Regions from separate parts of the Homo sapiens genome. Here regions 1, 3 and 4 are each linked to region 2. Evidence: fine-mapped expression QTL. A gene starts in region 2. Each other region holds a variant in brackets. All regions are shown on one strand. Distances are from middle to middle.

Region 1 (7,793 bases), 61 kb before region 2:
ATTACAAGTTAAATGACTGACCGAGACACAGCAGAGGACAGAACCGTGGGTGGCTTCCTACTAAGTTAACATCAGCCCATTAATTAACAGCTTTGTGAACTTCCATCCACCGATGAGCATGGCTAAAAGATGATTACCTCACGACCATCTTGTTTGTTTGTTTATTTTTTGGAGACAGAGTCTCGGCTGGAGTATAGTGGTATAATCATAGCTCACTGCAGCCCCAAACTCCTGGGGCTTAAGTAATCCTTCTCCCTATCTCCCAAGTAGCTGGAACTACAAGTGCACACCACCATGGCTAATTAAAAAAGATTTTTTTGCCGGGCGCAGTGGCTCACGCCTGTAATCCCAGCACTTTGGGAGGCCGAGGCAGGTGGATCACGAGGTCAGGAGATCGAAACCATCCTGGTCAACACGGTGAAACCCCGTGTCTACTAAAAATGCAAAAAATTAGCTGGGCATGGTGGCGGGCGCCTGTAGTCCCAGCTACTTGGGAGGCTGAGGCAGGAGAATGGCGTGAACCCAGGAGGTGGAGCTTGCAGTGAGCCGAGATCGTGCCACTGCACTCCAGCCTGGGCAACAGAGCAAGACTCTGTCTCAAAAAAAAAAGAAAAAAAAAAAAAAGCTTTTTGTTTTTTGTGTTTTTTTTGGTAGAGACAGGGTCTTGCCGTGTTGCCCAGGCTGGTTTTGAACTCCTGGGCTCAATCGATCCTCCTGCCTTGGCCTCCCACAGTGTTGGGATTGCAGGCATGAGCCACCATACCCAGCCCATAACTATCTTAATATCTCTGCGTGCTTCTGATCCTGCCCCCAAAAATATGGTGTGGGACGTGGTTAGATGCTTTCTATTTCCATGTGTTTGATCCTGATTCGCTGGCTGAAATGCCAAAGGTCACGGGAAACTGTGACTTGCTTTCCAGTTCTTGCAAGATCCTATAGTGTCAGATGCAACTAGTAAGGGGACTCCTCCAACTCAACAATAAAAAACAAATACTCCCATTCACAAATGGGCAAAGGATGTAAACAGACACGTCTCCAAAGAAGAGATACAAACGACCAGTCAGCACATGAAAAGACGCTCAACATCAGTAGTCACCAGGGAAACGCAAAGCAAAACCGCCCACTTCACACCCACTAAGATGGGATAATTTATTTTATTTACTTTTTTTTTTTTTTTGAGACAGAGTCTTGCTCTGTCACCCAGGCTCCAGTGCAGTGGCTCGATCTCAGTTCACTGCAACCTCCGCCTCCTGGGTTCAAGTGATTCTCCTGCCTCAGCCTCCTGAGTAGCTGGGATTACAGGCGCCTGCCACCACGCCCGGCTACTTTATGTATTTTTAGTAAAGACGGGGTTTTGCCATGTTGGCCAGGCTGGTCTGGAACTCCTGACCTCAGGTGATCCGCCCACCTTCGTCTCCCAAAGTGCTGGGATTACAGGCTGAGCCACCGTTCCTGGCCTAAAATGGTATAATTTAAAAAACCGAAAATTAAGTGTCTCGGTGAGAAGGCGGAGAAACCAGGACCCTCATACACTGCTGGTAGGAAGGTAAAATGGGGCAGCTGCTATGGAAGACAGCTTGGTGGTTCCTAAAAACCCTAGCATAGGCCGGGCGCGGTGGCTCACGCCTCTAATCCCAGCACTTTGGGAGGCCGAGGAGGCCGGAATACGAAGTCAGGAGTTCGAGACCAGCCTGACCAACACTAAAAATACAAAAATTAGCCGGGTGTGGTGGCGCGCCCCTGTAATCCCAGCTACTTGGGAGGCTGAGGCAGGAGAATTGCTTGAACCCGGGAGGCAGAGGTTGCAGTGAGCCAAGATCACGCCACTGCACTGCAGCCTGCGTGACAGAGCGAGACTCCATCTCAAAAAAAAAAAAGAAAAACCAAACAAAAAAACACAAAACATGGAAATAAGTGTGCATGTATAGATGAATGGATAAACAAAACGTGACATACACGCACACTGTAATATTATTCAGCCTTAAGAAGGAAGTTCTGACACACAGATGGACCTTGAGGACACTATGCTCAGTGAAATAAGCCAGTCACAAAAGAATACATCGTATGTGACTCCACTTCTAGGAGGTCCCTAGAGTTGTCAGATTCATAGAGACAGGAAGTAGAATGGTGGGTGCCAAGGGCTGGGGAGGGGGATGGAGAGTGAGTGTTTTATGAGGACAGAGTTGCAGCTTGGGAAGAGGAGAAAGTTCTAGAGATGGATGGTGGTGATGGTAGCATCAGCAATGTGTATGTGTTTAATGCCACCAACCTGTGCACTTAAAAAATGATTTTTTTAAAAAAAGATGCCACTTGGCTGGGCACGGTGGCTGACACCTGTCATCCCAGCACTTTGGGAGGCCGAGGTGGGCAGACCACTTGAGGTCAGGAGTTCAAGACCAGCCTGGCCAACATGGTGAAAGCCTGTGTCTACTAAAAATACAAAACTTAGCTGGACATGGTGGTGTGCACCTGTAATCCCATCTACTTGGGAGGCTGAGGCAGGAGAACTGCTTGAACCTGGGAGGTGGAGGTTGCAGTGAGCTGAGATCACACCACTGCCCTCCAGCCTGGGCAACAGGGCAAGACTCTGTCAAGAAAAGAAATAGAAAAGAAAAGGGAAGGGGAGGGGAGGGAAAGGGAAAGGGGAAGGGGAAGGGGAAGGGGAAGAGGTAGGGGAAAGGAACAGGAAGAAAAGAAGGAAAGAGAGAAGCTTGGTGTGCAACTTCATTTTTAACATATCTGACAAAAGAAAGTGCCTAAGGCCAGGTCTCAGGTGGAGAGGCCCTGCGCTGCCCAGGCTTGTTCTGAGATCCTCTGCTTCCTTTTGTGCAAATTTCACACTATTTTCTGGTATCAGGATGGAGGGACCTTCAATATCACCTATAGATATTGCAGATGCTGAAAAAGCATCTGCCTTGTGAGTATTTCTCTTGACACTGGGTACAGGCCAGATGCTGAAGTATAAGAGGTCCCAGCAAAACTATTCCACCCCCTGAGGCCTTCTTAGGAAGGGCAGTGCGTGGCATTTTTTAAACAATTATGTTAGTTCTATTGACTGGGCAGAAATCAAAATGACAAGGGTGAAAAACCTTTTTTTTTTTTTTTTTTTGAGATGGAGTCTCACGCTGCTGCCCAGGCTGGAGTGCAATAGCACAATCTCAGATCACTGCAACCTCTGCTTCTCAGGTTCAAGCGATTCTCGTGCCTCAGCCTCCCAAGTAAATGGGATTATAGGTGCATGCCACCACACCCAGCTAATTTTTTTATTTTTAGTAGAGATGGGGTTTTACCGTGTTGGCCAGGCTGGTCTCGAACTCCTGACCTCAGATGATCTGCCAGCCTCAGCCTCCCAAAGTGCTGGGATTTACAGGCGCGAACCACCATGCCCAGCCCCTGAAAAACATTTTGATGAAAAGAAGACTGATTCTGAAAACATTAATTCAGGTCTAGTTACATAGCTGAAATCTTCCAGAAAGCTGGAAGATTTATATACATATGTGTGTGTGTATGTATGTGTGTGTGTATATATATATATATTTCAAGCCAACAATTTTAATGTGGGAAATAAACAGCAAATAAATGTCAGCAGAGGTGACTCTAAGACGGACAGAGGAAACCAAACACCTGAGAGAGGCCGGGGGTTTCTCTTTCAGCAGATCAAAAGCAATCAGTCACAGGCGGAAGGCAGGGCAGCAAAACAGGTGTGCAGAATGCCAGAAAAAACCCTGTTTGCCTTCAATGGGCGGGGAAAGTATTCAAGGGCACTGCATTTCTGGAAAAAGGGAACTGCAATGATGTCAGGGCTGGTGAACCTTAGAAAAACCCTTCACAGGCCGGGCATGATGGCTCACGCCTGTAATCCCAGCACTTTGGGAGGCCAAGGCGGGTGGATCACGAGGTCAGGAGTTCAAGACCAACCTGGCCAACATGGTAAAACCCCATCTCTGCTAAAAAAAAAAAAAAAAAATACAAAAAAAATTAGCCGGGTGTGGTGGCAGGCACCTGTAATCCCAGCTACTTGGGAGGCTGAGGCAGGAGAATCGCTTGAACTTGGAGGGCGGAGGTTGCAGTAAGTAAGCTGAGGTTGCACCACTGCACTCCAGCCTAGGCGACAGAGTGAGACTCCATCTCAATAAAAAAAAAAAAAAAAGAAAGAAAGAAAGAAAAACCCCTCACAGGCCAGGCGCGATGGCTCACGCCTGTAATCCCAACACTCTGGGAGGCCGAGGTGGGCCTTGGCTCAAGTGTGAGTTCAGGTGTTTGAGACCAGCCTGGCCAACATGGTGAAACCCCGTGTTTACTAAAAAATACAAAAATACAAAAATTAGCTGGAGGTGGTGGCAGGCGCCTGTAATCCCAGCTACTTGGGAGGCTGAGGCAGGAGAATAGCTTGAACTCAGGAGGTGGAGGTTACAGTGAGCCGAGATTGTACCACTGCACTCCAGCTTGGGTGATAGAGTGGCCTCCAACTCAAAAAAAAAAAAAAAAGACTCTTCATTAGTTTCCAATCTAATCCAAACTCTCACAGAGGCCAACCTTTCCATAGCATGGACTGGGACTGCCATTAAGTCTTTTTTTTTTTTTTTTTTTTAAGAAACAGGGTCGGCCGGACGCG[G/A]TGGATCACAAGGTCAGGAGATCAAGACCATCCCGGCTGACATGGTGAAACCCAGTCTCTACTAAAAATACAAAAAATTAGCCGGGCGAGGTGGTGGGCGCCTGTAGTCCCAGCTTCTTGGGAGGCTGAGGTAGGAGAATGGCATGAACCCAGGAGGCGGAGCTTGCAGTGAGCCGAGAACACGCCACTGCACTCCAGCCTGGGCGACAGAGCGAGACTCCAACTCAAAAAAAAAAAAAAAAAAAAGAAACAGGGTCTTGCTCTTGCCCAGGCTGGAATGCAGTGGTGCAATCACGGCTCACTGCAGTCTCGAACTCCTGGACTCAAGCGATCTTCCTGCCTCAGCCTCCCAAGTAGCTGGGACTATAGGTGCACACTACCTACCTGTAGTCACCACGCGTGTGTAAGTTTATATATTTCTTTTTGTAGAGATGGGGTCTCACTATGTTGCCCAAGCTGGTCTTGAACTCTTGGGTTCAAGTGATCCTCCCGCCTTAGCCTCCCAAAGTGTGAGATTACAGGCGTGAGCCACTGCACTCAGCCGGTCTTGTTGTTTTCATCTGGGGGGACTCAAACTCTATGTTGAACACCCCCAGGCTTGCAAATACCACAACAGATCATTACTCCCTTAGAAAACACACTGCAGGATAAAGAGGGGCCCCTCAGGGAGCTGCTGCTCATGGATGGGCCCAGATTGTGAAGAGGTCAACCTGGGACACAGCTGCTAAGCTCATGAGACAGGTGAGGGCCTCCTGTTCCCTAACCCGCATCCCTCGCCAAATTTAGTCAGACCATTGTGGCCCTAGAAACAGAACTGTAAAAATGATGCGTCTACTGTAGGGGCTGGTGAACCCCTACTGTCTGTGGGCTGGCCACCTGTTTTTGTAAATAAAATTTTATCAGAACACGGCCACGCCCACTTGTTTCTCTGTTGTCTGTGGCTTCTTTTGAGTTGAGTGGCTGTGACAGAGGCTATGTGGGCTGCAAAGCCTGAAATATTTATTATCTGGCTCTTTCTCTTTTTTTTGAAACAGGGTCTCACTTTATCATCCAGGCTGGAGGCAGTGGTGCGATTTCGGCTCACTGCAACTTCAACCTCCCGAGTTCAAGCAATTCTCCTGTCTCACCCCCCAAGTAGCTGGGATTATAGGCATAAGCCACAATGCCTGGATAATTTTTGTATTTTTAGTAGAGATGGGGTTTCACCACGTTACCCAGGCTGGTCTCCAACTCCTGGGATCAAGTGATCTGCCCACCTCTGCCTCCTGAAATGCTGAGATTACAGGCGTGAGCCACTGCACCCAGCCTACTACCTCTTTTTTTTTTTTTTTTTTTTTTTTTTGAGACGGAGTCTCGCTCTGTTGCCCAGGCTGGAGTGCAGTGGCGCGGTCTCGGCTCACTGCAAGCTCCGCCTCCTGGGTTCACGCCATTCTCCTGCCTCAGCCTCCCGAGTAGCTGGGACTCCAGGCGCGGCCACCACGCCCGGCTAGTTTTTTTGTATTTTCAGTAGAGACGGGGTTTCACCGTTTTAGTCAAGATGGTCTTAATCTCCTGACCTCGTGATCCGCCCGTCTCGGCCTCTACCTAGCTCTTAACAGAAAAAATTTGCTGGCCCCTGGCCTACTATATCTAATTGGTTTGTTCTGGAAGGGAGAGCCTATTTCCAAGAATTCAAATGCAACCAGCTGGGCTCATGCAGTCTGGGAACTCCCAATGCTCTATCCCTGATGTGCAGAAGGAACCGGAATAAAAGGAGTGGCAAAGTGGATTCGCTGTGCAAAGTCATTACTGAATTCCAGACGCTTGAAATTGCCCATGCTGGGAGCAAACAGGCCACAAACAAGTAGCAAAGAGGTTGGTTTCTTTTTTTTTTTTTTTGAGACTCAGTCTCACTCTGTCACCCAGGCTGGGGTACAGTGGCTCAATCTCGGCTCGCTTCAACCCCCACCTCTTGGGTTCCAGCGATTCTCCTGCCTCAGCCTCCTGAGTAGCTGGGATTACAGGTGCCCGCCACCACACCCGGCTAATTTTTGCATTTTTAGTAGAGACGGGGTTTTCACCATGTTGGCCAGGCTGGTCTCGAACTCCTGACCTCAGGTGATCCACCCACCTTGGCCTCCCAAAGTGCTGGGATTACCAGCGTGAGCCACCATGCCTGGCCAGTGGTTGGTTTCTGAGCATCTCAAGTTCCCTACCATCCTGAGTATGATGGCTATAACCTTTTTTTTTTTTTTTTTTTGAGACGGAGTCTTGCCTTGTCGCCCAGGCTGGAGTGCAGTGGCACGATCTCCGCTCACTGCAAGCTCTGCTTCCCGGGTTCATGCCATTCTCCTGCCTCAGCCTCCCAAGTAGCTGGGACTACAGGCGCCCGCCACCACGCCCGGCTAATTTTTGTTTTTTTTTGTTTTTTTTTAGTAGAGACGGGGTTTCACTGTGTTAGCCAGGATGGTCTCAATCTCCTGACCTCATGATCCGCCCACCTCGGCCTCCCAAAGTGCTGGGATTACAGGCGTGAGCCACTGTGCCAGGTGGCTATAACTATTAATATAAGTCAGCAACCAGCTCCTACGCTAGGAAAATTCCAGAACCTTGCAAAGACCTTCATTAGCATTCCTTTTAGAACTGCAACAGTGTGAGCTTGAATATATTTTAACATATCCTGTGTCTCAAGGTCAGCTCGTAAGCTAGGTGCAGGGGAAGGCAGCTGGTACAGCTTTGTTTTTTGCCCTCTCTGAATCTATAACACTTTTGTGTTTGATGAAGGTGGTATCTGAATGCAGGGGAAGGAAAAGATTATATGGAGTATAGGCACACGGCCAGACATTTGACAGACTGTAATATCAGATTCCTACTCATACGTTTTGGCAAATTATATTCACAGAGAATTCAGATTTAGAAGCTTTTCAAAAAGAATCTGGAGGCCAGGTGTGGTGGCTCACGCTTGTAATCCCAGCACTTTGGGAGGCCGAGGTGGGTGGATCACCTGAGGTCAGGGGTTCGAGACCAGCCTGGCCAACATGGTGAAACCCTGTCTCTACTAAAAATACAAAAATTAGCCAAGCGTGGTGGCACGCGCCTGTAATCCCAGCTACCTGGGAGGCTGAGGCAGGAGAATCGCTTGAACCCAAGCGGATGGTGGAGGTTGCAGTGAGCCGAGATAGCGCCAACGCACTCCAGC
Region 2 (7,793 bases):
CTTGCAGTGAGCCCAGATCATGCCACTGCACGACAGCCTGGGTGACAGAGTGAGATTCCATCTCAAAAAAAAAAAAAAAAAAAAGGAAACCTAGGAAAGTGAGAAGGACATAATGTAATGCTTTTCCCTCACAAACAAGTTGTTGATTTGAACACAGTTCTTGAGTGAGTGGGAGGCAGACCAGAAAAAGCCTGAGAACCTGAATGTAGCTCTTAGCAATCTTATGTTGGGGAAATAAACATTGGAATTCAGGGCCCAAAAAGAGGAGGTGATTGCCACCCCTAAAAGACTACACCCTAGGAGCAAGGAGGGACCAGACATAGACTAGCCCTCACCGAGAGCAAAATCCATCTTCAAGTCAGCATAGGTCACAATCAGATTAAAGTGATCTTTCCTTTCTCTAACTGCCTGCCCAAAGCAAAAATAAACGCTCTATGGAGGAAAATGACACCATAAAGAGACACAAATTATCCCTATAGTTTTTCACAAACAAGGCCTGGCATTTAATCAGACTACCAGGCATACTAGAAGACAGAACCTCATGACCAAAAAACAAGAAGAAACACAGACAATAGCAACAGCCCTACAGGAGATAAAGATGCTAGAATTAAAAATACAACAGGCCAGGTGCAGTGGCTTACATCTGTAATCCCAGCACTTTGGGAGGCCAAGGCAGGTGGATCACCTGAGGTCAGGAATTCAAGACCAGCCTGGGTAACATGGTGAAACCCTGTCTCTACTAAAACTACTAAAATTAGCCAGGTGTGGTGGTATGCATTTATAATCCCAGCTACTCAGGAGGCTGAGGCAGGAGAACTGCTTGAACCCAGGAGGTGGAGGTTGCAGTGAGCTGAGACTGTGCCACTGCACTCCAGCCTGGGCAACTCTGTCTCAGAAAAAAAAAAAAAAAAGAGAGAGAGAGAGAGGCAGAGAGAAAATACAGTAGCATATGATACAGGGATGGCTGGATGGGATCCTTAAGAAGTCCACTCTAGCTGGGCACAGTGGGTCATGCCTGTAATCCCAGCACTTTGGGAGGCTGAGGTGGGGGGATCACAAGGTCAGGAGATCAAGACCATCCTGGCTAACACGGTGAAACCCCGTCTCTATTAAAAATACATAAAATTAGCCGGGCATGGTGGCGGGCGCCTGTAGTCCCAGCTACTTGGGAGGCTGAGGCAGGAGAATGGCGTGAACCCGGGAGGTGGAGCTTGCAGTGAGCCGAGATCGTGCCACTGCACTCCAGCCTGGGCAATAGAACAAGACTCCATCTCAAAACAAACAAACAAACAAACAAACAAACAAACAAAAGAAGTCCACTCTAGCAGACTTGCTTACAGATTGAGATCCACCATGGGTATGACCCAGAACATTTCAGAAGATGGTGGGACTGCTCAGGAAGGAAGGCCTGGGGACAAGGTCAGTATGAAGGCATAGGTGAGGCTGACAATGTTTTCTGATCTATTACGTGCCAGACACTGCACTAAGATCTCACAGACCAAACTTCATAAAGGCTGAGCGAGGTGGTTCATGCCTGTAATCCCAGCACTTTGGGAGGCCAAGGCAGGCAGATCACCTGAGGTCAGGAGTTCAAGACCAGCCTAACCAATATGGTGAAACCCTGTCTCTACTAAAAATACAAAAATTAGCTGGGCATGGAGGCGTGTGCCTGTAATCCCAGCTACTTGGGAGGCTGAGGCAGGAGAATTGCTTAAACCCGAGAGGCGGAGGTTGCAGTGAGCTGAGATTGCACCAATGTACTCCAGCCTGGGCGATAGAGCAAGATTCTATCTCCAACACACACACACACACACACACACACACACACACACACACACACACACACACCCACCCCAAAAAACTCAACAGCCTTTTAACAGATGAGCAAACGAAAGCTCAGAGCAGTTAAGTCATTTGCCCAAGGCCACATAGAGGCCAGGGAACTGGGATTTGAACGCCCAGCTGTCCAACACAGTCACCATGTCATCTACAACAGTATCGAGCATCAACATATGCCCATCCCTTTGTCATGGGCTAGGGGATGCCCAGGGAGGCATGGGAGACAGCCCAGACCAGAAGCACCGACGTGTTTGCAGTTGCCATCTACTGGTTCTTCAAGGCATAATGAAAAGGCTGCCTCTACCAAGCAGCCCTCCCAGAGTGACTCCCAGTCACAGCAAGGGAGTTGAAATGTGGCTGATTATGAGGGCAACCCTTTCCTGACCTCCTTTGGTTGTCATGTTCTTTTCTCAGAACTGCAGGTGACCTGGCCTTGGAGCATCAGCCCCCAGCGTCACTTCCTAGCTCCATCCTCTCTGGCCCCAGCTGTCCACTCTAGCTCAATTCACTCCCTCCTGGTTCTGGGGCCACCTTCCTAGACCTCAGGGTGCCTGAAGCCTGCCCTGCAGCATTGGGGGCTGGCAGGAAACAACAGACTGGGTGTGCCCAGCAGAAACCGCAGCCTTCCTCCCCCACCCCTCCCAGTCCCAGGCAGGCGGTGGTGCAGGAGGTCCCCCTAAGAAGGGGCCACGAGAGGAGACAGGGGATGTCTCCCAAGGGGGAGAACCCTCACCTGGAGGAAGGCTGCCTGGGTGGAGGGATGTGCTCTCTGGATGATTTCAGATCAGGACAAGACCCTTCTCAGGGCTGGTTGTCAGCCATCAGCCTTAAGTGTGAGTTTGTTTTGACAGTGGATTCAGAATCTGCAACAGGGAGGTTCTTGGGGGGCCCGGAATCTGCAGTTTAAGATGCAAAGGGCACCTGAGCCTTTGCCCCAGCTCCCCCATTCATTCTCTGTCTCCTGTCTCCACGCAGGAGGGCCTTGGCTACAAGGAGCTCTATCGTCCTTTCTTTGCTTTTCTTTTTCTTTTCTTTGTTTTGAGACTGAGAGGCTCACTTCAACCTCTACCTCCCGGGTTCAAGCCATTCTCCTGCCTCAGCCTCCCGAGTAGCTGAGATTACAGCTGCCCGCCACCACGCCTGGCTAATTTTTGTATTTTTAGTAGAGACGGGGTTTCACCATGTTGGCCGGGCTGGTCTCCAACTCTTGACCTCAAGTGATCCGCCCTCCTCAGCCTCCCAAAGTGCTAGGATTACAGGTGTGAGCCACCGCGCCCGGCCTCCACCCTCCTTTCTTACCTAGCAGCCCCTCAAGGATCCCCGTCCCCTGGGGTGACCTCTTATGACCACAGATCTCTGCACAATGAACGCAAGGGTCAAACAGCTTCCCCCACCCACTCAGGAAGCAAGTTGACTGCAAGGGGGAGAGAAACAGTGATGTATGTCTGCTCGCTGTCCCCCTAGACTTCCCAGACCCCACTGCCACTCTGTCCCGATGGGTCCATCTCTCTCCACTTCCCAGGATAAGTACTTACCAGATAGAGCTCAGTTCTTCAACCTGCAGGCACCTAGCCTGGCTAACAGCTCCTGCAGCTCCCATGACCTACGGCCAGCGTTTCGAGCTGGCCCAAGGGAACCGCTGGCTGGGTAGAGCCTGGGATAACCACAGAATGACCCAATAGCACCTCGACTTCCTCTTTCTCAACTGCCTGCCTGCATGCTTGCCACTCTGCTCCCAGCTGCAGGCCAATCTAGGGGCCTAAAAAGAGCCCAGAGGATGGGGGTTCTGGAGGCAGAGAGCCCTGCTCCCACCCCTCAGCCCTGCGCATGCAGGTGTCTTGAGGAGGAGGGGTGGGGAGCTGGAGGGAGGCCCAGCGTCCTCAACCCCCACCCCAGCAGCTTCCTGTGGAACCAACTGCTGAAGAGGAACAGGGTGTGGGGGCCTCACCCAGGCACATGGGTGTATAGACAGCAACATATAGGGACGTGCAGGTCATGTGTATCCGTAGAGACTCAGGCACCCAGACACACACCAGCATGGTGGGTACACACAGAGAGACAGAAACACACGTGGCTACATTGTTACATGGGTACCTGGAAGCTGGCGGAACAACATGGTGTGCTGGTAACGTTTAACAACCACCTCTCCGATTTGTAGCCATTGCCAATTCTCCTGGTGTAAATACCCCCAGCATGGCCGATTTCACCTACCAGTGTGATGTCACCGAGTGTGGAGTTGATAGGAAATGCTCAGATTTGGCTTTTTTTAGAAAACAACAACAACAACAACAAAAAACTGTTTATTTTATTTTTAGAGATAGGGTCTCATTCTGTCATCCAGTCTGGAGTGCAGTGGAAAAATCATAGCTCACTGCAGCCTCAATCTCTTGGGCTCAAGTGATCCTTCTGCTTCAGCCTCCTGAGTAGTTGGGATTACAGGCACATGCCACCATGCCTGGCTAAGTTTTTTGTTTACAGATAATTTATGTATAATTTATATATACTTTATATATAATTATATATGGATTATATATAGACTTATATATAATTTATATATAATTTTTTATATATAATTTTTCTTTTGAGACAGGCTCTCACTCTGTCATCCAGGCTGGAGTGCAGTGGGGGTGATTTTGGTTCATTGCAACCTCCATCCCCTGGGCTCAAGTGATCCTCCCACCTCCGCCTCCTGAGTAGCTGGGACCACAGGCACACATCACCACGCCTGGCTATTTTTTTTTGGTTTGTATTTTTAGTACAGACAGGGTCTCACCATATTGCCCAGGCTGGTCTCGAACTCCTGGGCTCAAGCAATCCTCCCACCTTGGCCTCCCAAAGTGCTGGGATTAGAGGCACGAGACATGGCGCCCAGCCTAAGTTAATTTTTTTTTTTTGTAGAGACAGGGATTTTATTATGTTTCCCAGGCTGGTCTCAAACTCCTGGGCTCAAGCAGTCCACCCGCCTTGGCCTCCCAAAGTGCTGGGATTACAGGCATGAGCCATGATGCTCCACTAAACTTGGCTCTTGGGCTGGCTTCAGCCTGTCACTGGAGTGAGTACTCTACAAAAAATTTAAAACTTCGCCACATTTGGTGGTGCCTGCCTGCAGTCCCAGCCGCTCCGGAGGCTGAGGCGGGGAGGCTCACTTGAGCCCAGGTGTTCAAAGCTGCAGTGACCTATAATTGTGCCACCGTACTCCAGCCTGGGTGACAGAGTGAAATCCCATTTTTTTTAAAGAAAGTTAAAATGGTAAATTTTACGTTATGCCTATTTTACCACATTTAAATTAATCACTTTAACATTATTTTTGCTGCATTTTCCATAATCTATGCTTTTTTTCCTTTTCCTTTTTTTTTTTTTTTTTTTTTTTTTTTTTTTTTTGAGATGGAGTCTTGCTCTGTTGCCCGGGCTGGAGTGCAGTGGTGCAATCTCAGCTCACTGCAACCTCTGCCTCCTGGGTTCAAGTGATTCTCCTGCCTCAGCCTCCCAGGTAGCTGGGATTATAGGTGACCCCCACCACACCAGGCTAATTTTTGTATTTTTAGTAGAGACGGGATTTCACTATGTTGGCCAGGCTGGTCTCGAACTCCGGACCTCAGAGGATTCGCCCACCTCAGCCTCCGGAAGTGCTGGGGTTACAGGTGTGAGCCACCACACCTGGCCTCATAATCTATGCTTTTGATGTTGCTTTTGTGTATGGAACCTGTTTGGTAGAAATACTGTATAATGGTTTGCTGCTGTCCATATCTTTCTGACTCACTGTTCGGTGGCATCACTTGAAATTGGCTGTGGCGAGAGTATTTACACCATGAGGACTGGCAATGCTATAAATCAGTGCTCTCCACTGGAGAGGTTCAACATTTACCAGCACACTACTGCACAGCGGTGCACACAGATGGTTTTGGGATACTGCACAATCACACTTCACACATGGTCACACATAGGCACAGGGACTCACAGAGGCAGATACAAGTGTGCACAACTACATGTAGGAGCCACCCCACACACAGAGGACACGAGACACATGCACGTGCACAACAGAGCACAACAGCGCTGCACAACAGGGCTGCAGGCTCCTGGAACACAAAGCTCAAGGACACACCCAGAGGACACACAAGGATACGCAAACACAGACACGTGTGCTCATGGGCACAACTTCACACAGGAGCATGCAGTGTCATGTGGACATGCAGAATGGGCATGCAGACACACATACACAACAAACACCCCGACACACATGTGGACTCACAGCCACAGTCACACAGAACACTCACACACACACACACACACACACACACACACGAGCAGATGCTGCTGGCCAGGCGCGGTGGCTCATGCCTATAATCTCAGCACTTTGGGAGGCCGAGGCAGGTGGATCACCTGAGGTCGGGAGTTTGAGTCCAGCCTGGCCAACGTGGTGAAAACCCATTTCTACTAAAAATATAAACATTAGCCGGGTGTGGTGGCATGTGCCTGTAATCCCAGCTACTCGGGAGGCTGAGGCAGGAGAATGGCTTGAACCCGGGAGGCGGAGGTTGCCGTGAGCCAAGATCATGCCACTGCACTCCAGCCTGGGCAACAGAGTGAGATTCCATCTTAAACAACAAACAAAAACAAAACAACAACAACAAAAAAGAGCAGATGCTGGCCACCTCTGAGAACACCTCTGGAGACACTGACTTGCACACCGGTTGCCACGGGACCACTCAAAATCACTAACACACAGACCCGGAAAGCCCTCACCACAAACACTCACTGGCCCATAGCGCCGCGCTTGTCCCTGGGGACACAGGTGGGGCCATCCCCAGAATCACACCAACGAGACACACACAGAACACAAGGAGACACAGATATACACAGATTTGCACACACCCATTCTGTAACCAGTTGATTATTTCTTTCAGGCAACATGCATTTATCGAGCACCTACTGTATGCCAGGCACTGTGGCAGGTGTGGGATCACGGTGAACAAGACAGACACAAACCCCCGCCCTGCAGGAGCTCCAGCTGGGGGAGGCAAACAGTGAATCAGGAAACACACCTAGGAGATAAATTCAGGTGCTGTGAATTGCCGCAACAGGAAGTAAACAGAGTGATGCGATAGAGTGGGTGGGGGAGGTTGATGCTTTAGCTGGGAAGGTCAGGGAAGGCCATTTGAGCTGAGATCTGTAAGCTCAGAAGAAGTCAGGCATATAAATCAATGTCTAGCTGGGCGTGGGGGCTCACGCCTGTAATCCCAGCACTTTGGGAGGCCGAGGCGGGTGGATCACGTGAGGTCAGTAGTTCAAGACCAGCCTGGCCAACATGGGGAAACCCCATCTCTTCTAAAAATACAAAAATTAGCCGGGTGTGGTGGCGTCTGTCTGTAATCCCAGCTACTCGGGACACAGAGGCAGGAGAATTACTTGAATCTGGGAGGCAGAGGCTGCAGTGAGCCGAGATTGTGCCACCCTACTCCCACCTGGGTGATAGAGTGAGAAAAAAAAAATCTAGGGGAAAGTTATTCTGGGTGGTAAAAACTGCCAGGGCAAAGGCTTGGAGGCAAGACTGAGCTTGGGGTGTTTGAGGAACAGAAGGAAGCAGGTGTGGCTGGAGCCAGGCGGAGGAGGACTGTCACAGGACCCAAAGTGCTGGGATTACAAATACGACACACCGCACCTGCCCTTTTCTCCCACTTTTGATAGAGACATAGCAGAGTGAAATATTTCTGTGCTGTAGAAATACTCTGTGCTGTTTGGGAGTACCGTCCACACTTCCTGTCCACGCTTCCCCACTCTCTGAACCCTGGCCTCTGTCCCCACTGCGCCCCGGACACCTGATATTGGCCTTAAGGCCGAATGCAGAGGCCACCCCTCGGCTGTGCACACCTGGCTCCCTTCCTTCCCCTCCACCACCCCGTCCAGCCCGCAGGGAGGGCCACCACCTGCTCTACCCTTTACTGCTTGCGTTGGTG
Region 3 (7,793 bases), 120 kb before region 2:
TGCAGTCGGAGGCGCTGTCACTTCTCAGCAACCTGGCCGACCTGGCCAACGCCGTGCACTGGCTGCCCCGGGGCGTGCTGTGGGCCGGCCGCTTCCCGCCGTGGCTAGTGGGCCTCATGGGCACCATCTCCTCAATCCTCAGCATGTACCAGGCGGCCCGGGCCGGCGGCCAGGCCGAGGCCACTACCCCCTGACACTGCCGGAAGAGCACAGGGACACAGCCAGAGCCCACGGAGGGCCCTTCCCGCAAAGCAGAAGCCGCCAGGGCAGGGGCCGGGGCTCTCATGGAGCTGCCTGTGGTGAAACCCATGGGCAGGGTGGGTGGAGGGACTGATGCGAGGTCCCCCAGGCCTCAGCCTGGAGCTCCTGAGCCGTGACAGTTTTCAGGGGCCGTGCAGGGCTTCAGCAGCACCTCCTGCCTGCCAGCTGGCGTCTTGTATCCAAATCAAGATGAGGAAGAGGGGGCCTGTCGTGCCTTGAGAAAGCTGGAACGGGAATCAATTAAACATTGTGGTGCTGGCGCCTGGCTCAGGGGTGAAGGTTATTACACTGCTGGCTCCTGGCCCCTTACCCTCCACAGGACGGACCCAAAGTTGGAAACCACACTACCCCAGCCCACCTTCAGGAATGCCCTCAGCCCGGTGGGTCCTCTCCATCTTTGAGCAAGCGTTGCCCACGGACCCCAAGTGGCCTCCAGCCATTGAGGGCTGTTCTCTACTCCCCAGAGTCCTGGGCACACAGGCCAGAGGCGCCACCTCTCATCAGGCCACCCGAGGGCGTGGCCTCATGCCACTGTGCTGCCGACGCAGGGCCACTGTGAGCATTTTAAGGGCTCCAGGCTGAGACTGGGCAACACACACTGGCATCGCTGAAGATACTTGGGGCTCCCACCTCAGCCAATGTGTGGTGGGATGGGATGAGGGCACTGCTTAGTCTGCTGGCTGAGAACAACCCTTCAGAGTCTGTGCACATGTGGCCTCTGGCAGACATTGTTGCACAGCCTGGCCCAGGAACACACAACAGCCAGTGTGTGTGCGCCCTTGGGCCTCATGTGATATCAATTGCACTGCCTTGATTTTTATCTTTTTGACCCAGGATCTCTGTCACCCAGGCTGGAGTGCAGTGGTGCGATCATAGCCTCACTGCAGCCTCAAACTCCTGGGCTCAAGGGATCCTCCTACCTCAGCCTCCTGAATAGCAGGAACTACAGGTGTTTATCACCAAATCCAGCTAATTTTTAAACTTTTTGTAGAGACAGGGTCTCACCACATTGCCCAGGCTGGTCTTGAACTCCTGGCTTCAAGTGAGCTGCCTGCCTCGGCCTCCCAGAGTACATTTGTGGTTTGTTTTTTACAAGGAAGATACCAGGTGGCTCTGAGCAGCTGGGAGGCCGGGGACTGCTCAGGGTCACACGGGTGCGGGAGACCCCATCTGTGGGGGCTCCTTCTGCCCAGGACTCACGAGTGGGCCAGGCTTGGTGGGTTTCCCCCTTCTTTCCCTTGTCGGGGGTGCAGGCCTGTCCTGGCCCTCAGCAGAGGCCTCCTTCCCAGCCCCTAGCAGCACCTGCATGATTAGGGCATCTCATTGTCTACCTGGAGACCCAACTACTTACTAGCTCATACCAGTGGGGCCCTTGGAGCAGCGCCTCTGTGTGGGGAAGCCACATGACCACCTGGTCACAGGTGCCAGGAGGAAAAGCAAGCCACCTTCAGGGATACAGCCTGGGCTGGGAAGGCCTTGGACACTGACCATGTGGAGCCCAGGCACAGAGCAGACAGGTTGGATGCTTCCAGAAAGGGAGGCCGCTCTCCCACTCTCTCAGCTGGTCCAGTGGTTGTGTGTGTGTGTGGTTGTGTGTGTGTGTGTGTGTTTAAACAGTTTTATGGAAATATAATTCACATATAAAATTTATCCACAGAAGGGGGACAGTTCAGTGGCTTTTAGTACATTCACAGTCGTGCAAGCAGAGCCACAGTCAACCTTAGAACATTCCATCACCCCAGAGAGAAACCTCACACCCCTCAGCTGTTACCCACCCGCAGCCCCCAGGCTTGGTGACCACTACTCTGTCCCTGGGTTGCCCATTCTGGTCCAGTGGTTTTCAACCTTTTAGGGGCTGGGAACAGACCCCTTTGTGAACCTTAAAGACTACGGGCCCTCTTTTTTGAGACAGAGTCACTCTGTCGCCTAGGCTGGAGTGCGGTGGCGCGATCTCGGCTCACTGCAACCTCCGCCTCCTGGGTTCAAGCAATTCTCTGCCTCAGCCTCCCGAGTAGCTGGGACTACAGGCACGCCCAAGCATGCCTGGCTAATTTTGTATTTTTAGTAGAAACGGGGTTTCACCACGTTGCCCAGGCTGGTCTTGAACTCCTGTGCTCAAGTGATTCACCCACTTCGGCCTCCCAAAGTGCTGGGATTATAGGCGTGGGCCACCGTGCCCAGCCACTACAGGCCCTCTTTGCAGAACATCTCATTTTAGGGTGCCTCCAAGCCCCCCAGGGCCCATAAGGAGTGCTGAGGAAGGCTGGGGGCATCCCAGTGGAGGGGTCAGCTAGGCAGAGGTCAGAGGACGGCTGGGGTTGGGGTGGAGCAAATCAGAGGGTGGGGGGAGACACACACACACACACACACACACACACACTCCAATGCCCACCATCAGGAGAATAGCAACTGGCCAGTTTTATGTTGTGTGCATTTGACCACAATGAAGAAAAAATAGACCAGGCGCGGTGGCTCACGCCTGTAATCCCAGCACTTTGGGAGGCCGAGACAGGCAGATCACCTGAGATTAGGAGTTCAAGACCAGCCTGGTCAACATGGTGAAACCCCATCTCTACAAAAATGCAAAAATTAGCCGGGCATGATGGTGGGTGCCTGTAATCCCAGCTACTCGGGAGGCTGAGGCAGGATAATTACTTGAACCTGGGAGGCGGCGGTTGCAGTGAGTCAAGATAGCGTGCCACTGCACTCCAGCCTGGGTGACAGAGCAAGACTCCATGTCAAAAAAATAAATAAAAATGTAATAAATTAATTACATCCTTTTTTTCTTTTTTTTTTGAGACGAAGTCTCACTGTTGTCCCCCAGGCTGGAGTGCAATCGTGCAGTCTCGGCTCACTGCAACCTCCGCCTCCGGGTTCAACCGCTTCTCTTGCCTCAGCCCCCAGAGTAGCTGGAATTACAGGTGTTTGCCACCACGCCCGGCTGATTTTTGTGTTTTTAGTAGAGATGGGGTTTCAACATGTTGGCCAGGCTGGTCTCAAACTCCGGACCTCAGGTGATCTGCCTGCCTCGGCCTCCCAAAGTGCTGGGATTACAGGCGTGAGCCACTGCGTCCAGCCCTTTTTTCTTTTTTTTTTAAATTTCATTTCTTTTTTCTATCCCCCAAATTTCCTTTTTTTTTTTTAAGCTCTTATAGACAGGGTCTCACCATGTTGCCTAGGCTGGAGTGCAGTGGCACGATCATAGCTCACTGCAACTTTGAACCCCTAGGCTCAAGCAATCCTCCTGCCTTGGCCTCCTGTGTAGCTGGGATTACAGGTGCACGCCACCATACCTGGCTAATTTTTTTTTTTTTTTTTTTTTTTTTGAGACGGAGTCTCGCTCTATTGCCTAGGCTGAGTGCAGTGGCGCAATCTCGGCTCACCGCAAGCTCCGCCTCCTGGGTTCACGCCATTCTCCTGCTTCAGCCTCCCGAGTAGCTGGGACTACAGGCGCCCGCCACCACGCCCGGCTAATTTCTGTATTTTTAGTTGAGACGGGGTTTCACCTTGTTAGCCAGGATGGTCTCGATCTCCTGACCTCGTAATCTGCCCACCTTGGCTTCCCAAAGTGCTGGGATTACACGCGTGAGCCACTGCGCCCGGCCAACCTGGCTAATTTTTTAATTTTTCTGTGAAGGGGTTTCACTATGTTGCCCAGGCTGGTCTTGAACTCCTGGGCTCAAGCTATCCTCCTGCCTCAGCCCCCGCCTCCCCAAAATGCTGGGATTACAGGGATGAGCCACTGTGCCCGGCCCTCCTTTTACTTTTTTAATATGGCTACTAAAAATGAAAAATTCCACACGTGGCCTGCATCATCTTCCTGGTGGACAGTGCTGCCTGAGAGTTCCCTTTTTGCGCTTCCTAGTGAGCTAGTGATCGACTTTACACCTAGTCCCCTTGTGATGGGAAACCCTCTGTTGAAACAGCAGGGTCCTCGCCTCACTGGACCGGGACTCAGACCAGGTGGAAATGATGATTTCATACTCATGGCCAAGCTGCCTCTCACCCCAGATGGAGGAAGTGAAAGTTCCAGCCTTTGCGGTTATTGTGGATTAAAAGCAAAAAGATTTTCGTGGAGGCGCCACCAAAGCCTGAAGTGTACCCGGTGGGCAGGACCCTCCACAGGCACCTCCACGCCCCACTCCTGCCCTGTGCCCGTAATCCCAGCACTTTGGGAGGCTGAGGCGGGCAGATCACTTGAGGTCAGGAGTTCGAGACCAGCCTCGCCAACATGGCGAAACCCCATGTCTACTAAAAAAATACAAAAATTAGCTGGGCGTGGTGGTGCACACCTGTAATCCCAGCTACTCAGGAGGCTGAGGCAGGAGAAGTGCTTGAACCCGGGAGGCAGAGGTTGCAGTGAGCTGAGAACCTGCCACTGGTCTCCAGCCTGGGCGACAGAGCAAGACTCTGTCTCAAAAAAACAAACAAACCAAAAAAACAGAAACAAAAACAAAAACAAAACCCCCAACAACTCCTGGGGACTGGACCTGAAGGGGTCTTCAGAGCGTTAAGCAGGACACGGAGGGCAGGTGAGCGAGCTGAGGGGCAGGAGCCATGGGGAGCCCCCAACAGAACCTGCTACTCCTGCAGCAACGTTTGGGCAGAAGAAAATCCTCAAATAAAACCTCCAAGAACGTGCACGCCAGTCACCGCTCATCTCGGACACGTTTATTGCTAGAATCAGGTCTTAAGTTCTAAAGCGGGTCAGAAATATCCCGCAGTGAGGAAATGTTGTAATCATTGTAAAAATAATTAGCAGGTGACTAAGATCATGACCACAACTGACAAAGACGTGTGCAGATCCCACGAAAATAGGAACATTTGCTCGACTGTCAACTTTACAAATAAAATCGGGCTCCAACCCAGGAGTGGCCGAGGGGCACTGGCGAGGGAAGGGCTGTCGGCGCTGCCGCCCGATGCCTAGCACGACTGAGACCCCTCTGCCACATGGCGGGGACGCGGGGTTCCCACCGCGTGGCCGAGCAGAAATTCCTTGAACTTCTCCCCCATCCAAGGAATTGTGGCATCT[C/T]GGAGGGCTGGACCGGCACACGCCGGCTCAGGAGGGTGCCAGGGTCTGGGAATGTTCTCTTCACAACAGAACAGGAATGTACAGTCAGCTTCTGTAAAGTGCTCCGATACTCAGTACAAAAATACAAAACACTGATGATAAACATGGCACACATGGGATCTGACGGGGGGCGGACAGCGTCGCTGATGGCCAGGGACCGGGCTGGGCAGAGTTGAGGTCGTCGGAGGGGCCAGGAGCCTGGGGACACCTGGCCACTGTGTTCTCAGGACCTTGTCACCAATGGGCTGTATGGCTGTGGGGCTCTGGTTCCCGGTTGGCACCAGCTCCTGCCCCGCCCCCTCCTGAGCCCACAGCACCCAGTGGGCGCCTCTGCCCAGGGGAGCACTTCCTGATGGAGTTTCCCCTCCCTTGTGCCCATCTGTCCCCGAGTGGCGGGAATGTCCCTGTTCACTGTATTCAGCGTCACAGGAGTGCCTCTGCCAGCACAGTGGGAGAAGGGCTGAATCCCCCCGGGATCTGCAGTTCCCAGGACCCTGGGTTCGGGAGAAGGACTTGGCCCTGGCAGGGGCTCACATGTACCCCACTGGGAACAAGGACGATCAGCCAGGACCCAGTCCTACCACCAATGCTTGGGGTGCAGAACAAGGCTTGACATGGGCCCTTTCTCCACCGGAGCTGGATCGTGGATGGATCTCACCACCCTGGGATGTCCCAGCACCTTTGATGCTGCCCAACACCTCCTTCCTCCACCCCTCCAGGGAACGGACCGTAAGCTGCAACAGCTCACTACAAGCGAGGGGCCCGCACAGCGGCCACTTGTCCACTTGCTGCAACGTCTCTAGGTGCATCCTCTGCATGCCCTGGGACATGGCGCTCTCGACAGTCTGTGATGTGCCAGCCCCCACCTGGAAGGTGGGACGCCAGCCCTGGGAGCTCATTTCCCGGGGGCTGAGGACCCTGTGCCCAGGGTGTGTACCCGCCCTGGCTGAAGCTAGAGGCCCGCTCCCCCAGACAGGCTGAGCGTGTGAACAGCAACGGTTGCCCTTGGGAAGCAGAGTTTGGGAAACAGCTGGTTTCAAAACCAATGCCAAGTAAAAAGGGGCAAAGGTCAGCCCCTTTCACGATGGGCTTCCAAACCCACAGAACCTGACTGGAGGGCCACTGATGTTCCCTCAGTGGGCCCTGCCCCGTGGCCCTCTCTGCCCATGCCCCCGTGCCTGGCTCATTCCCTGACCCTGAGGTTCATGGTGAACCTGCGTGGGGCTCTGTTTGGGAAGTGGATTCTGCCTGATTCTGGGGACAGATGCTGCCGACGCCACCTGGCCCCTCCTGGTGCCCTAACCCTTGGCTCCACTGTCGCGCGGCGGCTGTGGAGCGTGGCCCCGGCCGGCAGCTCCTTCTCAAAGCAAGGTCTGTCCTGTCCTCAGCTCCGTGCAGAGCCGGCACCGTTCCTCACTGCCTCGGAAAAACAGCTCGGAGTTGATCTCCCCGCCACCCGGATGGGGTGCTATGATTTCAGACAGCTCCCTGGTTTAGTTCTGGCTCAACTTTCCATTAAAAACTTTCCTTTTTGAAAAAAAAAAAAAGAGATTCAGAAAGTGACCCCGGCACCACCGCTAACCCTACAGAAACAGCTGCAAGGCCCAGAGCACCGACAGGCTGGCCCCTGCCAGGCGGTCATCAGTGGTTTGCTAGGGAAGAGGAGGGGACAGCTGGGTGGGCATGGTGACCCCATGGGGGTCCCCAGAGAGCAGGAAGGGTGGGCAGGGCAGGGAGGGGCCTTGCACCTTGAGTCACGGCCCTTTTAGAAGAAGATGACGTCTTCTTTGCTGGCGTCCTCCTTGGCGCTGAGTGGTGTGGCCGGCAGTGGCGAGGGAGCTGGGGGCCCGGGCAGGAGGGCTGTGCCCCCGGCCTTGAGAGAGAAGCCCTCGGAGGGGCTGTCAGCTGGCGGTGGGCTCGGGGCGGGGAAGCCAGGGTCTGGAACAGAGAGAGGGTTCAGACTGAGCAGTCGCCGGGTGGTGCCGCAGCCCCGCTGCCCTGGGACTGGGCTCATGTCAGGGGGTGGGGGCTCACCTGGTGGGGGCGCAGGACTGTGTCTGCCGGGCAGGATAGGGCTCAGCGAGCGGCGGTTCCGTGAGGTGCTCTCATCTTTCCCCATGAGCTTGTTGAGCAGCAGCTGCTGCTTCAGGTCGAAGGACGCTGGAAGAGAGAAGGTATTTGGGCCAGCTCCAGGCTGGCCAGCTGTCCCCACCCGCCAGGGCAGCCTCCGAGAGCAGAGGGGCCTGGCCACCCCCACCTGACACTTCCCACGGGCGGCCTGGATCCCGTGACCTGAGCTGCTCAGATGCTAAGCCCCAGATTCAGGGAGAACGGCCCCAACCTCCCTGCGGAAGGACCTGCAGAGTCACCCGGCATCTGGAGAGGAGGCTGAGCCTCCTGTGGAAATAGCACAGGCCCTAGTGACCACGGGACACACCCTTAATCTTCAGAGAACATCCCA
Region 4 (7,339 bases), 110 kb before region 2:
AGCCTCCACGCCTGGCTAATTTTGTGTATTTTTAGTAGAAACGGAGTTTCACCATGTTGGCCAGGCTGGTTGCAAACTCCTGACCTCAGGTGATCCGCCCGCCTCGGCCTCCCAAAGTGCTGGGATTACAGGCATGAGCCACCATGCCTGGCTTCTTTTTTTTTTTTTTGAGACAGGGCCTTGCTCTAGAGTGTAGTGGCCTGATCCTCCCACCTCGGCCTCCTGAGTAGCTGGGACTACAGGTGTGCACCACCAGGATCAGCTATTTTTAATTTTTTTTTTTTTTTTTTTTGAGATGGAGTTTTGCTCGTTGCCCAGGCTGGAGTGCAATGGCACGATCTCAGCTCACTGAAACCACCACCTTCCTGGTTCAAGTGATTCTCCTGCCTCAGCCTCCCAAATAGCTGGGATTACTCGAATGTGCCACCACGCCTGGCTAATTTTGTATATTTGGTAGAGGCGGGGTTTCACCATGTTGGTCAGGCTGGTCTCGAATTCCTGACCTCAGGTGATCCACCTGCCTTGGCTTCCCAAAGTGCTGGGATTACAGGCGTGAGCCACCACACCCAGCAGCTATTTTTAACTTTTTTGAAACAAAGTCTTGCTTGGTCGCCCAGGCTAGAGTGCAGTGGTGCAATCTCGGCTCACTGCAACCTCCACCTCCTAGGTTCAAGCGATTCTCCCACCTTAGCCTCCTGAGTAGCTGGGATTACAGGTATCCACCACCACGTCCAGCTAATTTTTATATTTTTAGTAGAGACAGGGTTTCACCATGTTGGCCAGGCTGGTCTCAAACCCTGGACTCAAGTGATCACCCGAGTCGGCCTCCTGAAGTGCTGGGATTACAGGCATGAGCCACCGCACCCAGCCAAAGGATCAGCTATTTTAAAAATATTTTGTCGACATGTGGTCTTGCTATGTTGCCCAGGCTGGTCTCAAACTCATGGCCTCAAGTGATCCTCCCAAGGCCAGGTATGGCGGCCTTGCCTATAATCCCAACACTTTGGGAGGCCCAGGCAGGAGGATTGCTTGAGCCCAGGAGTTGGAAACCAGCCTGGGCAACATAGTGAGACCCTGTATCTACCAAACATTTAAAAAATTAGTCAGGTGTGGGGGCGCGCACCTGTAGTTTCAGCTACTTGGGAGGCTGAGGTGGGAGGATTGCTTGAGCCTAGGAGTTAGAGGCTGTGTGAGCTGTGATCACGCCACTGCCCTCAAGCCTGGGTGACAGAGTGAGACCTTGTCTCCAAAAAAAAAAAAAAAAAGTGATCCTCCCACCTCGGTCTCCCAAAACACTGGGATTATGGGTGTGAGGCACTGCACCCGGCCCCTGCTTATTATTGAAAATACATCCCTTAGTGTGGATAACAGGAAGGACCCAGGACCGGGTCATGACTGGGAACACAGGCCCTGCTGGTCAGCTGACTTGTACAAATCTGGGTGTTTGGAAAACGAGGGGCTGGGGCCTCCTGGGAGGTAGAGTGGGCTTGGCTATGAGGCCTGCGTGCCAGCTCTGGCCACAGGGGCAAGTCCAAGCCTCAGAACTGATCAGAGGCAACTGGCCTTGGCCTCTGACCCCCTGACCTGGGCAGGGCCGAGTAGGCACCTGGCCTTCTGATTCAAAGGCAAAGGAATAGCCGGGGACATCTGGCATCTGGTAGGCACCACCACACCTGCCCCGGCTGAAAGCTGGTGGTCCCTGTAGGGGGTTCCTCGCCTGTTGATGAAGCCATGGTGAGTGCCCTGAGCCTGTCCCCTCCCCAGCCTTCCTCTTGGGGACCTCTTTGCTTTTCCCAGGAGGCTGCAGGAAGAAATCACCTGCCAGTGCATTAATCTGGGCTGAGATACTGTTATTCACCACAAAACAAACAATGCTTGTCGATGCTAATAAGACTAAAACTGGACAACCCCAGCAGAAGCTGCTCACACACATGAATCCTTATGACGACTCAGACTGTACCGAGCAAATGGATATCCACGTACCACCTGCGGCGATTCCTCAGAGCTCCCAGGAATGTCACTGTCACTGAGCTTCAAGTCCGGGCTGTTTGGGGGGCCTCGCCAGTCTCGGGGCCTGGGGTCAGTGCTGCTGACTTTCTTCTTGAAACTGCCATCTGAGAACCCCAAGCCAGGGGCATGAGGATGCTGCCATCCCGTGGGGAGGGGGAAGCTTCCCAGTCCACCCCCAGCCCCTGCCCAGGTAGGAAACCCAGGCTAGGCCCGAATGGTGGCGTCTGCAGCACAGACGCCTGCTG[G/C]AGAGGGGCAGGCTGGTCTGGGTGCTGCTGTCACAACACAACCAACGATGTCTGGAGGGTTTCAGAAGGTTCCAGAAAATCGGCTGGGTGCGGTGGCTCACACCTGCAATCTCAGCACTTTGGGAGGCTGAGGCGGGCGGATCACCTGAAGTCAGGAGTTCGAGACCAGCCTGGCCAACATGGTGAAACCCCATTTCTACTAAAAATACAAAAAGTAGCCGGGCATGGTGGCGTGTGCTTATAGTCCCAGCTACTTGGTAGGCTGAGGCGGGAGAATCACTTGAACCCAGGAGGCAGAGGTTGCAGAGAGCTGAGATTGCGCCACTGCACTCCAGCCTGGGTGACAGAGCAAGACTCTGTCTCAACAACAACAAAAAAGAAAGTTCTAGGAAACCCCATACAAGTTAATGTGCATCCTGAGGGGCGGCCCTGGAGGCAGGAGGGGAGACGGCCCCGCTCTTACTCTTGGTGGGGCTGTTTGTGCAGTCGTAGCCCGCGAAGGTCTCAGCCCTCCTGGGCGGGCCTGTGGAGCTGCCTCCGTCTTCCGCCTGGCCGTTGGCGCTGCCCAGCTGCCTGCAGATCAGGCTCTGGATGCCCTCGACTGTGGAAGGAAGGGGACAGGAGGCACGGGTCGCCCTGCGGAAGTGTGCTGGGGGAATACGGAGCGCTGGGGCAGCGAGACCCGGGTGGACGGAGGGACTCACTGGGGTGGTGATCGCCTGCCCCCTTCTGTGTGCCGTGGGATTTCAGCCCCACTGTCCCTGCGCACACCCTTACTTCAGGTATGGCCACCAGGACAGGCCAATCTGCGTCTAAGTGAGAGGACAGGGCTGTGGGGCAGCCATGGGGAGGGCGGGTACAGGCTCCTGCAGCTCCTTCCACCAGGCCGCCCTGGGCCAGGGGCTGGCGAATGCTGGATGTGGCCCTGCCCAGGGCCAGCAGGAAACACTTGGTGTGTTATATGACAATGACCATACACTGATTGTGTGACAATGGCCATATGGGAGAGTGACTTTGTGGGGAAGGGCTGTCTACAGAAAGCCCTCTAGGACCAACAGGCTGTGGCCAGGCACAGAGGTGGGGACAAGAACATTCCAGGCCAAGGTGCGGGATATGAGAGTGTCCCCAGGGGGCCAAGAACAATGGCCACTGGAGCCGGGTGGAAGGATGTCAGTGGGCCTGGAGGGAGAAAGACTGACCCCCGTCTCTGCCGTCTTATTCTGCGGAAAGGCTCTGGAAGGCAGGGGCTGAGTCGGCTTCCCTCACTGTTGAAAGAGCAGATTGAGGCAGGGCGCGGTGGCTCACGCCTATAATCCCAGCACCTTGGGAGGCAGAGGAGGGTGGATCATCTGAGGTCAGGAGTTCGAGACCAGCCTGGCCAACATGGTGAAACCCCATCTCTACGAAAAATACAAAAATTAGCTGGGCGTGGTGGTGGGTGCCTGTAATCCCAGCTACCCAGGAGGCTGAGGCAGAATTACTTAAACCCAGGAGGTGGAGGTTGCAGTGAGCCGAGATCACGCCACTGCACTCCAGCCTGGGTGACAAAGCGAGACTCCATCTCAAAAAAAAAAAAAAAAAAGAAAAGAAAAAAAGAAAGAGCAGACTGGGCGCTGACTGCCTGCTCAAGCGGCCAGCCCAGGGGCCTGGCGGCTGTGTTAGAGCTGTGCGTGGGGACCCACTGAGGGAGTGTGCGTGTGTTTTTCTGGGGATATCACCAGGACCCACCTCCCAGGAAGAAGAGGAACCTCTGGTAGGTAGGGAACCAGTCTTAGTCAACTTCAGATCCTCCCCACGGCCCGGCTTAGAGCCTCTGCATGCAGGGAGCATCAGAGCGGTTGTTGAACGGGGAGAAAGTGCTTTATGTCTGCAAGGAGCGGCTTGGCCCAGATTATGTCTAAGGCCCTTCTGGCTCTCACAGGCACCGGGGGGCGGTCAGTGCTGCTCCTGGGCCCCCCCCACATAGAAGCCTGTCCTGGACAGGGTGCCGTGTCGGCCACAATGAGCCGTGAGCCTGGCCTGGGGTTCCCTGAGGAGCCCACCCCGGCAAGACTGCACCCTTGAGGTGTGGGCAGCCAACTTACTCTCGCTCATGGCCGACTTGAGAATTAGCTCCCCCTGCAGGGTCTCGGATGGGTCCCCTCCACGGAATAGGCCTCGGGGCTGGGGCAGGTCTTCGAGGCCGCCCATCTCGGCCATCTCCAGGTAGATCTGCTGTTTCTCTAGGAGGCTCTGTGCGATCAGCTGGTCTTTCATGCTCAACCGCTCTGCAGAGTGATGGTGGAGGTGGCAGTCAGCCGGGTCGGCCTTCCCTGGAATCATCTGAGCCCCGGGGACTGGCCTAAGGATGAGGAACCCCGCTGGCCCTGCCCTGAGGTAGGCTGCCCCCTTGTGTCCTGCATTCCTGGGAGGTAGGGGAGGGCATGGCCTTGTCCTCTGATTATTTTCCCCCTTGTTATAAAAATCAGGTTAGCTGTGGTGGCTCAGGCCTGCGATCCCAGTACTTAGGGAAGCCAAGGTAGGAGGACTCTTGCGGCCTGGAGTTCGAGACCAGCCTGGACAACATAATGAGACTCTGTCTCTACAAATAAAAAATTAGCTGGTTGTGGTGGTGCATGCCTGGGAAATGAGGCAGGAGGATCGCTTGAGCCCAGGAGTTCAAGGCTGCAGTGAGCTATGACTGCAGTACTGTACTCCAGCCTGGCCAACAAAGCAAGATCCTGTCTCTAAAAGAAATAAAATAAAATCAAACACAGTAGGGTGTGAGTGAGGATTGTATCAGGCCCATTTATTAGTCTGGGACCAACTTAGAGCCTTAGAAAACTGAATTTTCCATCCTCCCTTTCTTTCTTTCCTTCCTTCTTCTTTTGAGAAGGAGTCTCGCTCTGTCGCCCAGGCTGGAGTGCAGTGGCACAATCTCGGCTCACTGCAACCTCCACCTCCCGGGTTCAAGCGATTCTCCTGCCTCAGCCTCCCGAGTAGCTGGGACTATAGGCACGCACCACCATGCCTGGCTAATTTTTTGTATTTTTAGTAGAAACGGGGTTTTGCCATCTTGGCCAGGCTGGTCTCAAACTCCTGATCTCAAATGATCCACCTGCTTTGGCCTCCCAAAGTGCTGGGATTACAGGCGTGAGCCACCGCACCCAGCCTAATTTTTAAATTTTTTGTAGAGACAGGGTTTTGCCATGTTGTCCAGGCTGGTCTCAAACTCCTGGCTTCCAGTGATCCATCTGCCTCAGCCTCCCAAAGTGCAGGGATTACAGGCATGAGCCACCATACCAGGCCACTTATTGTTTGAGTATTATCCAATTTAGAAATGAATAATACAGGGCCGGGAGCGGTGGCTCACGCCTGTAATCCCAGCACTTTGGGAGGCCGAGGCAGGCAGATCACGAGGTCGAGAGATTGAGACCATCCTGGCCAACATGGTGAAACCCCATCTCTACTAAAAACACAAAAATTAGTGGGGCGTGGTGGCGGGTGCCTATAGTCCCAGCTACTCGGGAGGCTGAGGGAGGAGAATCTCTTGGACCTGATAGGCAGAGCTTGCAGTAAGCCGAGATCACGCCACTGCATTCCAGCCTGGTGACAGAGCGAGGCTCTGTTTAAAAAAAAAAAAGAAGATAAAATAAAAAAAAATACAGACAGTGAAAGGGAAGAAGGGAGCTTGCCGCAGGCTACAGGGCACCAGGAATTGTTCTTGACAAAGTGCTCACTGAGCGCGGGCGAACCTTAATACCACACCTCGAGAGGAGCCAGACCCAAAAGGCCGCGCGGTGTGACTCCATTTATGTGGAATGTCCAGGGCAGGCCAATCTACAGGGACAGGAAGTAGATTCCTGTTGCCAGGGTTGGGGCATGGGGTGGGGAGTGACTGTTAAGGGGGACGGGGCTTCTTTCTGGGGTGGTGGGATGTTCTAAAGTTAACATGATTCTGGCTGCATAATTGGAAATGCACTGAAATGCCCCTGAACCCCACGCTTGGGAGGGTGAGTGCTGTGGTGTGTGAATTACATCTCAATCGTGTAATTAAACAGGGAGGAGGAAGCTCTGGAAGGAGGCTGTGGGGACCCTGTGCTATTCCTTCGTATGGGACTGGGATGCCCTGTTGAGCTCCTGGCTGCACGAGGATGGGGTGGTGGTGGCGTGTGTGGCTGTGTGGTCGGCTCTGGAAGGGGCTCAGGTCCTCTGGGCTCTCCTCCCTCCCTCTCCCACATACCCCCAAAGGGCTAAGTGACCTCTGGAGATCGCTATGTCATGGCACAGCCCGTTCTAATGCTTCACAGAGCTGCAGGACATGGCACAGCCCACGGGAAAACACCGGGTCACCTGGGGGGCAGTTCACCCTCTGTGGCCAGTCCTGATGGAGGGCCCAGGGCTCACCACACAAGGGGTGTGCCCAGACGCTGTCTCCCGCTCACCTTGAAAGTCCCGGAGTCTCGTGGCGCGGGCCTCGACCACCTTCCTTTCCTCTTCGGGCAGGCTGAAGGGCCCCTCCTCCTCGTCAGGGCAGCTGCAGGGAGAGGAGTCGGGTGGGTAACTGTGCTTCCCAGGCAGGCCAGCCTCGGCACAGACGCTGGTTCTGCAGAACCAGCCGCCACGACCGTCTCTGACTTTGGGAGTGATTTAGCTTGTTCGTGGTGCAGGAGGACGAGGAGGGGAAGAGAGAGAGCCACTGACATTCATCCCGCCCCAAAGCGCCAGGGCATAACCAGGAAGAGGCTTTACATGCCTGCCTGTGACTTAGAGGAGGAGTCCAGGGGACAGCGGGCTTGCAGAGGACCTGCCAGGTGCAGGTGGGTGGCTGCAAGCCCCGTAGAGCTACAGCTACTGTGGATGGGGGAGTCTGAACCAGATTAAGGCACCAGGAAGCCTCCGGGAATCAAGAGAGGGAGTGGACAGGCATGGTGGCTCACGCCTGTAATCCCAACACTTTGGGAGGCCAAGACAGGAGGATGGCTTGAGGCCAGGAGTTCAAGACCAGCCTGGGCAACACAGTGAGGCCCCATCTCTACAAAAATAAAAAATCTAGCTGGGTGTGGTGGTGTATGCCTGTAGTTCAAGCTACTTGGGAGGCCGAG

Evidence for each region. PIP is the estimated chance that this variant, and not a neighbour inherited with it, causes the effect.
Region 1: its variant is the best candidate, but not a certain one, in a credible set for the expression of ARHGEF18 in whole blood (INTERVAL, PIP 0.65).
Region 3: its variant is the best candidate, but not a certain one, in a credible set for the expression of ARHGEF18 in whole blood (INTERVAL, PIP 0.63).
Region 4: its variant is the best candidate, but not a certain one, in a credible set for the expression of ARHGEF18 in whole blood (INTERVAL, PIP 0.50).

What each region holds. Positions count from the first base shown.
Region 1 is chr19:7,406,126-7,413,918 of GRCh38, reverse strand. The region is part of intron 10 of ARHGEF18 (Rho/Rac guanine nucleotide exchange factor 18); the gene reads right to left. Among named protein-coding and RNA genes, the nearest start is that of ARHGEF18-AS1, 15 kb to the right of the region's middle. RefSeq lists a silencer at 3,770-3,909. The variant G/A (reference allele first, on the strand shown) is at 4,616.
Region 2 is chr19:7,344,823-7,352,615 of GRCh38, reverse strand. It overlaps ARHGEF18 (Rho/Rac guanine nucleotide exchange factor 18), which reads right to left and starts at 3,679. Exons shown (of 29, transcript NM_001367823.1): 1 at 3,375-3,679. RefSeq lists an enhancer at 7,663-7,732.
Region 3 is chr19:7,469,603-7,477,395 of GRCh38, reverse strand. ARHGEF18 (Rho/Rac guanine nucleotide exchange factor 18) reads right to left here. Exons shown (of 29, transcript NM_001367823.1): 28 at 7,367-7,492; 29 at 4,918-7,270. The coding sequence ends at 7,098. It overlaps PEX11G (peroxisomal biogenesis factor 11 gamma), which reads left to right. Exons shown (of 5, transcript NM_080662.4): 5 at 1-521. The coding sequence ends at 194. Among named protein-coding and RNA genes, the nearest start is that of PEX11G, 16 kb to the left of the region's middle. RefSeq lists an enhancer at 1-550 and a silencer at 4,192-4,241. The variant C/T (reference allele first, on the strand shown) is at 5,294.
Region 4 is chr19:7,459,335-7,466,673 of GRCh38, reverse strand. ARHGEF18 (Rho/Rac guanine nucleotide exchange factor 18) reads right to left here. Exons shown (of 29, transcript NM_001367823.1): 20 at 6,680-6,771; 21 at 4,340-4,522; 22 at 2,719-2,856; 23 at 1,984-2,114. Among named protein-coding and RNA genes, the nearest start is that of PEX11G, 26 kb to the left of the region's middle. The variant G/C (reference allele first, on the strand shown) is at 2,256.